Linked DNA regions of Homo sapiens. The protein of the gene in region 1 purifies or fractionates together with the protein of each later gene. This does not show direct contact. Each region holds a gene or a part of one and is shown in the gene's direction. Other genes may lie near its edges.

Region 1 (2,508 bases):
CTCTACTTATATTATTTTTTAAAACAAGACTTTCCTTATCTATCTGACTCAAATTCTAAGAAAATAATTTTATAACTTTTTTTCAAACTCTAAAGCAGCATAGTGAACACGTATTTGTTGACATCACCATTATTATAATTATTGGGTTGTTAACAATAACTAAGCACCGATGCTGTGTGCCTACTACAGTGTCTTTTGCATACTGTGTGCCTGATAGTATTTAAGAGTGAAAATGGCCGGGTGCGGTGGCTCATGCCTGTAATCCCAACACTTTGGGAGGCCAAGGCAGGCATCTCACGAAGTCAGGAGTTCGAGACCAGCCTGACCAACATGGTGAAACCCCGTCTCTACTAAAAATACAAAAATTAGCCAGGTGGGGTGGCATGGGCCTGTAATCGCAGCTACTCGGGAGGCTGAGGCAGGAGAATCGCTTGAACCCATGAGGCAGAGGTTGCAGTGAGCCAAGATCGTGCCACTGCACTCCAGTCTGGGTGACAGAGCGAGACTCTGTCTCAAAAAATAATAATGATAATTAATAAATAAAGAGTGAACATGAATTTTAAAACATGCTCGGTAGTGTCTGCTTACAGGACATATCTCTAAAAATAGATGACTGACTGGTGAATGGGAGAACAAATGTTAATGAGGTTCAAATAAAAATTTAAATATTTTAGCATTTTAACCCAGACAATAAGGCTTTCATCATATAGGAACTCTTTATTGAAATATTTCAAGAAAAAAGGGATTATCATTTAGAAGACTGATTAGTCTTATTTATTATGACTGAAATGTGCAAACAGAATCATTGTTTCATGAACAGAAAACAGCAGAGTTTTTGACTGTCAATGATGTTCGAATAGAAAATGGATCACTAAGGAGATAGGAGATTCTGTTATCGACAGTCTTCAAAAGTAAGTTGATGGCCCTGGAATGAATGGAGTACAGGGGATTCTCTAATTTGATGACTTGTTGAACTACATTATAGTCAAGATTTTTCTCCAGTCATGAGTTGGAAGATTCTACAATCTGGTGGTATTATAGAATGGATTGGCCACTTGTGCATCTGAATTTGTTATGAATGTGTAAGAAAAAAGCAATTGAGAAGATACCTTGAAAATAAATGAGAACCTCCTTTGTAACCTGACTTTGTCAGTCTTCTTAAAGATAACATTGAGTTGATGTGTTTTTAAATAAGCTGCTAAGAGTAATATGTGTTTTTCTGAACCAATATTGTGGTATTTACATTTAAGGAATTGTTATAGATTTATTTATTTCAAGTTTCCAAAGGTATATACCTAAACAAGAGATCTAATCATACACATCTTCAAAGCTCATTTTCTTGTATCTTTGTGATATAATTTGATAAAATAACAATTTTAAACAACTTGAATCTTGGATATTAGTCTCATGAGTTAGATGGGCTGTTATACATATGATTATTTCATAAACTCTGAAAGTGTGAATGTTATTTTACTATACTACCAATTTGGGATGTTAAACTACATCTTGAGCATTTGTTGTTATAGGGAAAGCTCACTAACTACTTTTCATGGAGATCAGGCTGGTTTATTTTATTCTCTTATTACCTGTGACCATTTCATTTAAACAAATAAAATATTTCTCTGATGGAAAAACTACCAACTTCTACTCTCACAAAAGTCATTCACTCATGTGGACTGACCAACTGTTAAACATCCTGGCAGTCATGGAATTTGCTAAGTTATGGCTAAATGAGGTTCTTTAATCCACCTGCAATACAGATCATTAATAATAAGATAGGCTATCTGAGGTTTTGAGAGTTCAGTATAGAATTTTGAAGCATCAGGAAAAAAAACTACCAAATTATTGTCTTATTCTTATTTTATGGTCTGTGAAAGCCTCTTTTTTTTTTTTTTTTTTTTTTTTTTTTTTGTCAGAGTCTTGCTCTGTCTCCCAGGCTGGAATGCAGTGGTGTGATCTCTGCTCACTGCAACTTCCTCCTCCTGGGTTCAAGCGATTCTCCTGCCTCAGCCTCCCAAGTAGCTGGGATTACAGGTGCATGCCACCATGCCTAGCTAATTTTCATACTTTTAGTAGAGATGGGGTTTTACCATGATGGCCAGGCTGGTCTCAAACTCCTGACCTTAAGTGATCCACCCGCCTCAGCCTCTCAAAGGGCTGGGATTACAGGCATGAGCCACTGAGCCCGGCCTGAAAGGCATTCATTTCTGATCAGGCTTCTGTTGAGGTGGCAATTGTCAAAGGGGAAGGAGTAAAATCTCAGAGGAGAAACATTGGAAGATACCTATATCTTTGCTTGAGAATGAAAATCTAAATGGAACTTCAAAGAACTGTTTTGTTGTTTGTTTTTTAGAAAAAAAAGTCCCAAAAAAGAAAAGAGAGAAGATAATCAATTCGATGCCCAGGAAGCCAAATAGACTTTACATAGAATTCTTTTTAATGCAACCAAACAAATGGTCAGGATTCTTCCCAATATCTCAGTCAACAATAATATACACTCTTTAAACT
Region 2 (3,656 bases), on another chromosome or scaffold:
GTGGCACAATCTTGGCTCATTGCAACCTTCACCTCTCAGGTTCAAGCGATTCTCCTGCCTCAGCCTCCCGAGTAGCTGGGATTATAGGCACCCACTATCTTGCCTGGCTAATTTGTTTTTGTATTTTTAGTAGAGATGGATTTTTGCCATGTGGCCAGGCTGGTTTCGAACATCTGACCCCAGGTGACCTGCCCGCCTGGACCTCCCAAAGTGCTAGGATTACAGGTGTGAGCCACCGTACCTGCACCTCATCATTTATTTCTGTCCTAGGACTTCCAGCTTGTCCCCTTCCAGCTCCTTCTGCAAGTTGACATCCTCCTCCTCCTCCCCTTAAACACCAAGGGTCCTTGAGTCTTCCCTGCCATCCTCCTTCATCCACTGCAGGCTGACAGCCCCTCCCATCACTCGGATTGACTCGGAGGTCACCCAGCAGCTCAGGGCCTTAGCATCTTCTGCATTCTTATGGTGCTCTTCCACACGCACTCCCCTGATCTCTCCTGAAGCTGCCCTCCCTTGGCTCCTGTGACCCCAGGAAGCCAGGTTCTCCTTCCTCTCTCCTGGCTCCTGTTGCTCCGCCCACTCCCTAAATACTGGCTCTCCTTGTTGCTCTGCCCTTGACCCTCTTCGAAGTCTTCTCACTGCCCACTCTGGCAGTGCCTCCGCCCTCTTTTATAGCACCAGCAACACTTCTGCGCATCTGGCTCCTACATCTGAATCTCCATCGCAGTTAGGCTTCCAGAGCTGCTTCGTGTCCCCAGCTGCACCCAAGATTTTCTTTTCAGCCTTGGATAGCAACTCAGTCTCTCCTCCTGACTGCCCCCTTTCATTCTCTTTTCTATTCCTTCCATTACCACCCTGATAGATGCTCATCACCTAGGTCACAGCCCTGTTCTCTTCACTGCCCCTACCTACTCTGATTATCCCACCACCAAAACACCACTTTAGTTCCATTTTTCCTGTGCTCTTTGAATGAATCTTTTTTTTTCTTTTTCTTTTCTTTCTTTTTTTTTTTTTTTTTGAGATGGAGTCTCGCTCTGTTGCCCAGGCTAGAGTGCAGTGGTGCAATCTCCACTCACTGCAACCTCCCCTTCTCAAGTTCAAGCCATTCTCCTGCCTCAGCCTCCCGAGTAGCTGGGATTACAGGCACGTGCCACCCCGCCCGGCTAATTTTTGTATTTTTAGTAGAGACGGGGTTTCACCATGCTGGTTAGGCTGGTCTTAAACCCCTGACCTCGGCCCGCCTCAGCCTCCCAAAGTGCTGAGATTACAGGCGTGAGCCACTGCGCCTGGCCTGAATGAGTCTTCTGAGTAAAGTCTTAGGAACTCTTCAGCCTGGTGTCTGAGTCCTACCAAGTTCTGCCCCCAGTTTACTTTTCTCCACCTACAGGTCTTTGTGGCCTAGCTCCCCTGAGCTATGACGTATTAGAATGGGCCAGGTACCCTCCCACGTTGAAGCCCTCCCCTACAGCTGCTTCACCCCGGGATTCCATTCCTTCACTCCATCTCCTGCTGCCAGAGTCCCTGCAGCTGGGCAAGCTGGAATGGTTCTAGGAATTTGAATGGGGGGATGACCCAGGCAGAGTTCTACGGTTGACCTCGAGTCCCTGGAAAAAGGAGAGGGCTTACGTCTTTAGTAACTTCTCCCAAAACTGTCTCTCCAGGAACCAGTGACCAGGAAAGACCATTGGGCTCCTTTGAAAAAGATTCCTCCCATCCCTTTTTTCCCCTACCAGATGCCAGCAGCTCTTCCTTGCCAGAGATGATCTGACCCGGTGGGGGCAGCTGGAAAGCAACACTGGCCCCCAGCTGAAGGGCCCAGCTGCAGCCAGACAGATGGTGCTTGAGAACCGAGGCCCGGTGATCCTCCAGCCACAGTCCAGCCCAACCACTGCCACTTTCCATGGGACTTAGAACTTCGGAGTTGCTGCCTTGCAATTGGAGGAAGGACCTGGGGCCCCTATAGGCAGCAGCCAATTACAGCCCCTTTTGTAGCCAGGCGTTCCTATGGTCAAAGAGTGGAAATGCAGGAACCAACCTCCCTTTAAAAAAAAAAAAATCCAGAAAGCAGATAAAAGTTGGAATATGGAAAAGGGCAAGATGACCCCCACCAGAGGCTCTTTGGCCTGAAGGTGGAGTCTCTGCCTCCGTCCGTTCTCTATCTCTCCTGTCACAGACTCTGCCTGACCCCCTTTCCTCAGCTCCCTTCTGGTCCCCCTTCCTCAGCTCCCTCCGGGCACTTGTGCCCTTCCCTTCCATGTCCTCCTGTATCTCAGCCTTCCCCCGGGGCTGCTGGCCCAGCACACGAGCCCTGCACCCAGCCTGGGTGGGAGGTCCCTGGCCAGTCCCCCAGGAACTCTGAGGAGCTATGGGCTACTGCAAAGCATCTGCCGACTGCCCTGCCCCGTCTGGCCTCATCAGGCTGCTGCTGTTAGGGATGGGCTCACTCCCAGCAGCTCCCGGTCACCCAGCAGGGATGGGGAGGGTGGCCACCCTGGAGCTGGAGGACTCTGGGGAGGCAGGGTCTTTAATTTGGCAGCAGACAAAAGCCAGTTCTGGAGTCACACCACAGTAGGGGCTCACAGGGGCTCTGACTCCCCAGCTGGACTGGAAGCCCTGCTGTCCGAGGGTGGGCAGCGGTGGGTCCTGGAGTGACCCCTTTGAGCAGGTGCAGGGCTAAAGAGCAAGGCGGAAAGGCCGCCAGCCTGGGTGAGCGCCTAGGGCATAAGGGCTTGCTGGGTGCCCCTGAGAAGGGCGGGTGATCTGAGGAGGAGAACTCTGATTCTAGGAACGCTTACACGGCACTGACCACTGCCACGGGGAGGGAGGCTGCCCAGCCCGTGGCCCCGCCCTGGACATGGGAGCGCGCAGACCTTCCGGAGAGCCGGGAAGCCTGGGCAGGCACGAGGCTTCGGCGCGGCTCTGGGAGGTTGGGAGTGGCATCCGATCCTTGGCCGGGCCCTGGTGGCCTCCGTGGCCCCAAGATCACAAGGGCGTAGCGAAGGCGAGCCGGCGATCGCACCTCGTCCCGCCCACCCTGCCCGGACTCGCAACGCCGAGCTTGGGGAGGGCCGGGACGCGCAGCCGCCGCCGAGCGTGACCAAGTTTGGAAACGCGCGCGGGGCCGGGACGCTGGCTCGGGGGGCCCTGCCGAGGAGCGGTCGCCCCCTCCGCTGCTCCCCGCGCCAGGCCTGGGGCCCTGGAGGGAGGGGGGGGGGTCTCCGAGGAGTGCCTCGGTACCCCAGCTCGAGTTCTCGACGGGTCTCTGAGCCTTCCCCGCGCCAGGACCCGGCGCACTGTGGGGGAAGCCCCAGCCCCATGTCTGTTGAGTGTTGCTTTGTTATTTTTTTTCCTCCTATGTGTGGGTTTTTTCTTGGAGCTGTTTCATAGGAATTCCTGTAATAAACAGTTGGTGTTCTCTTGGTGCTCTGATGTGGCCAGCGGCGTGGGCTGGACCCTCCTGCTCCCTCCTCCCTCCCGGCCTGGGGCAGGGTTTGTCCCCAGGAGCCCCGCGTCGCATCCCTAGGGTACCCCTGCCTTGCCTGGCCCATTCACCCGCGGCGCTCTCCGACTGCACTCTCGAGGTGACACCTGCGGCACCGCTGCACCTCAACCTTGCGGACCTGCCGGCTGCGTCTAGCGCTGTCGCCTTCCTGTTT
Region 3 (3,656 bases), on another chromosome or scaffold:
GCAAATTCTGGCAGAATTAAAGAGAGACAGAAGTCAGTGTGTGTGTGTAGGAGGGTGGTTTGTAGGGTTTTGGTTGAAGGAAGCCAGGCTGGAGGGTCTTGCTAGTTGTATTGAATGGGAAATGGCAAAGAGAAGTAAAAGATGTCTGGCCTGGGACATCTGACCTAACATTGATTATGTGAATTGAAAATACATAATAAAATAATAAAAATACCAGCTTTCACTTAGTACTGGGTGGTTTTCCATGAATTTTCACAAATGATGCAATAGATTTTTGTAACAACCCTCGGAAGTAATTAGAGCAGAAAGGTGATGAAGCTGGGACTAATACTGCAAAGCACATCTGCACCAGTATGCGCCACTGCCTTTCTGCAGGATTTGTAGAGATAGGAGAAGCTAAAGCTCACTTTGGAAACCCTGAGTAAACAGGAGAGAGACATAAGGTTAGGGTCAGATTTTAGGTGAGGTTGAATTTCTGCGTAAGAATTTAGGTTACATTCTGGAACACAGAAGTCTCCAATTACGAGCTCAAGACTTCCTGAAATGCCTTGAATTCTGATTATTGATGTTTAATCTTACTGCTCCTGTTCTGTGCCCACTCCTCCTCTAAGGTCCCCCTTTCCCCAGCAGGAATTCTGGGGCTTTGACTATCACAGAGTAATTGATATGACTCTTCCAAGAGCTTTTAGTGATGCTGGAAAAAGGAAATCCATGCATTTCATATAAAGGCGAGGATTCTGGGGCCACTGTATCATTAATTGATAGGATGTGTTCTGCAAGTTGTGCTTTGGAAACTTTGTCACCAGAGGTGAAATTCCACAGAAGGCATAGAAATCTAGAAAGGTGTAAGATGAGTGTCTGTACATTCCTTCCTGTAGAGCCCTAATCACTCTGCTCTGAGCATGAAGTGCACCAAGGGGGGACAAGTCTCTGCTTACCACCCAACTGTGTGTTCACCACCCCACTTTGTGTTCATGTAGAAGGGAGTTACTCAGGATTCATTTGCTTGCATGTGTGAATATTTAACTAGGTAAAGCAAAAAAGGACTTACTGGCTCATTGGACCAGAAAGTCCAAAGGTGGTCCTTGCTTCAATCATGGCTGGAACTCAGAGACTTACACAACTTTGTCGAGGTTCTTTCTCTCTCTCCCCATTTCTCAGTCCCACTTCTCTCTGGGTCAGCTGTATTCTGAGGCACTCTTTCTGGATATGGAGAAAGATGACTGTGGGTATTTCTAAACCTACATTCCTGGGCTTTTCATCTATGAGAAAAAGAGGTCCTTTCTCTTCCAGGTCCCATTTTTATAAATCTCCTTGAAGGGCTCTGATTGGCCCTGCTCAGTGGTAATTGAATTGGTCTCTGTGTCTAGCAGAGAGTGCTACTCTGATTGTATTGGACTAAATCATGTGCCCAACCCTGTGTATATGTGGTTCTGGTGCTGGGATGAGGAGGAGGAGGCTGGTAGGGCACTATGATAGGCAGTTCTGTCAAGATTACATAGAGTTGTGGTTCTCCCAAGAAAATAATGCTGCCAATCAAAAACAATAGTCTATTATTGGGAATAATTCCTTCCTTTTTTGGGACAGCCCTCTGCACAATGATCTGGAGTTTGCACATGGAAGCAACTCAGGTGCCCAAGACAATGCGTATCCCAAAAGTGGGACCTTTCTCCCAAGCAAGGTATAGCCCAGTGATGAAATAATGCCCTCATGTTTAAACTTTATTAAAAGGAGGATTGTTTCCAGAATGGGAAACACCCATTCTGGAATGAATGGGAAGCCACCATTTATTCATATCTATGTACTTCTAGCAAATATCCCTGTGCCTTATTTCCAGCCCAGAGATTTTGTTTCCAAAAGCCCTGCCCATCTAGTGATGATGAGATTGGATACCCCCTACTTTGGCCATTGTAGAGCCAGTGAAAGTTTGAACAGGGAGCTGAAGTGATTAACACAGAACTATTGTTTATGCAAATACATTGGGTTGTTGGAAATGCACAGAGGGGAGTGGCAGGCACAGATTAGGATTTTCATTTAGGAGGCATAAGATGATAGGTTTCCAATTAGAGTAATGGCAGCAAGAATTTGTGAGCAATATTATGAAGTTCTTATGAGGTTATATGTCAGGATGAAGGAGCATCTTTGTTGACAGAAGCATTTGTGGAATGAAATAGGCCAGGAGGGAGTAGACTAGGAAGACATCCTGGGCCAGTAGGTGAAATGGCTATGCGTGGTAGATAGGTTAATAGCAAATAGATTGTGTAGACAGGAGGCCTGTGGTCACCATGAGTCCTAGGGGCATGTATAGAACTGACATTTACCAAGGATCTACTTAGTATGGTAGGTTCATGTTGCATACTTTAAAGTTATTATATTAATGTTTATATAAAGTCAGGGAGGTAAATAACTTACTGAAGGTTATGAGGCCATTAAGCAGTACAGCTGGAATTCAAACCCTGGCAGTCGGACATCAAAGCCTTGCTTTAACCACTATGCAAAACTACCTCTCAACCTCAAAGTCAAATTCACTGTATCAGGCCAAACTGAAGGACCAGCTAAAGGTTGGCCCTTCTGATAGGAAATGAGAGTGCCAGAATTCCAGGTCAAATAGAAGGCACAGAACAGAGGTTATTAGGGTGAAAGTGGATAACATTCATGCTCAGAGCCAACCTGGACAAGAATGTCAAGGTAAGACATTCTTGGAAAGGAAAGAATATCACATGCATCCATTCTGGATTTAGGGTTTGGGGTATAGCAAGGAAAGGGGATGGGAAAATTATCAGGCAGTTGAACAGATGGGCAGATCAATAGAACAACTGGAGTTTGATTGTTGACCTGAGAACAGGAACTCTACCATCTGCCATGGCTTTAAATATCCTTCCTGGTGTAAGTTGATAAGAATATGGAATGGGCAGCTCCTCAGAGGGAGACAGGATTTTATTAGTTGTCAGGCACTATCAGGGAAGGAGCTAACGTTTGTAAGGCCATGCGCCTTAGATACGTAAGCTCACTAAATCTTCATTATAATTCCAGAAGGGTAAATATTATGCCTCCCCACCATCGCCACTTTTCTTGAGCCAGGAAATGGAGGCTCAGAAGGTTAAGTGACTTGCCCGAGCTCCTGGAGCCAGACTGGAAAGTGAAAGAGCTGGCATGGAACCCAGATCTGTTGGAATCCAGACCTCTTCCTGGATCTTCAGGGAGTCATCCTGGTGCTAGCAGGACAAGGTCAATATCAAGTCTGAGAGATGGAAATGGGGAAATCAGGAGGGGCATATGGTTGTGAAGGAAGACAGTAAGCTAACTTTTAGACATCTGAGTGTGAGATAAGAGCAGACCGTCTGAAGAGAATTGTCCAGCAGGATTATATCTGGCTTTGGCAGAAAACTTAATAATCTAGTAGGTTTTTTCCCCTCAGTACAGGATCTCTATCATTATGCAGGGTAGATACGTCAGCAAGTCAGATGTTTGGAAGGCTTAATTTAAGTCACTGATTTCAGTTCAAGAGAAGGGACCTCTGCCAGCTGCCATGGCCTGAATTTACCTTTATACATACAGATACTCTGCCCTGAAATGTGAAAAAATGAGAAGTAGATACATATAGAGAGGGAGAGAGGACACTCGCTAGCACATGCTGAATGTAGCAGGTTCATGAA

Evidence for each region.
Region 2: the proteins of PCDHGA6 (region 1) and CUEDC1 purify together in Homo sapiens (co-immunoprecipitation; one large-scale study listed by IntAct). This does not show direct contact.
Region 3: the proteins of PCDHGA6 (region 1) and TMEM200A purify together in Homo sapiens (affinity purification with mass spectrometry; one large-scale study listed by BioGRID and IntAct). This does not show direct contact.

Annotation. Positions count from the first base shown.
Region 1 is NC_000005.10:141,378,009-141,380,516, forward strand, and holds part of PCDHGA6 (protocadherin gamma-A6 isoform 1 precursor), read left to right. Parts: exon of another isoform or gene 1-1,637; intron 1,638-2,508. UniProt on the Homo sapiens protein: Potential calcium-dependent cell-adhesion protein. May be involved in the establishment and maintenance of specific neuronal connections in the brain.
Region 2 is NC_000017.11:57,861,363-57,865,018, reverse strand, and holds part of CUEDC1 (CUE domain-containing protein 1), read left to right. Parts: intron 1-1,733; 3' UTR 1,734-3,656.
Region 3 is NC_000006.12:130,368,961-130,372,616, forward strand, and holds part of TMEM200A (transmembrane protein 200A), read left to right. Parts: intron 1-3,656.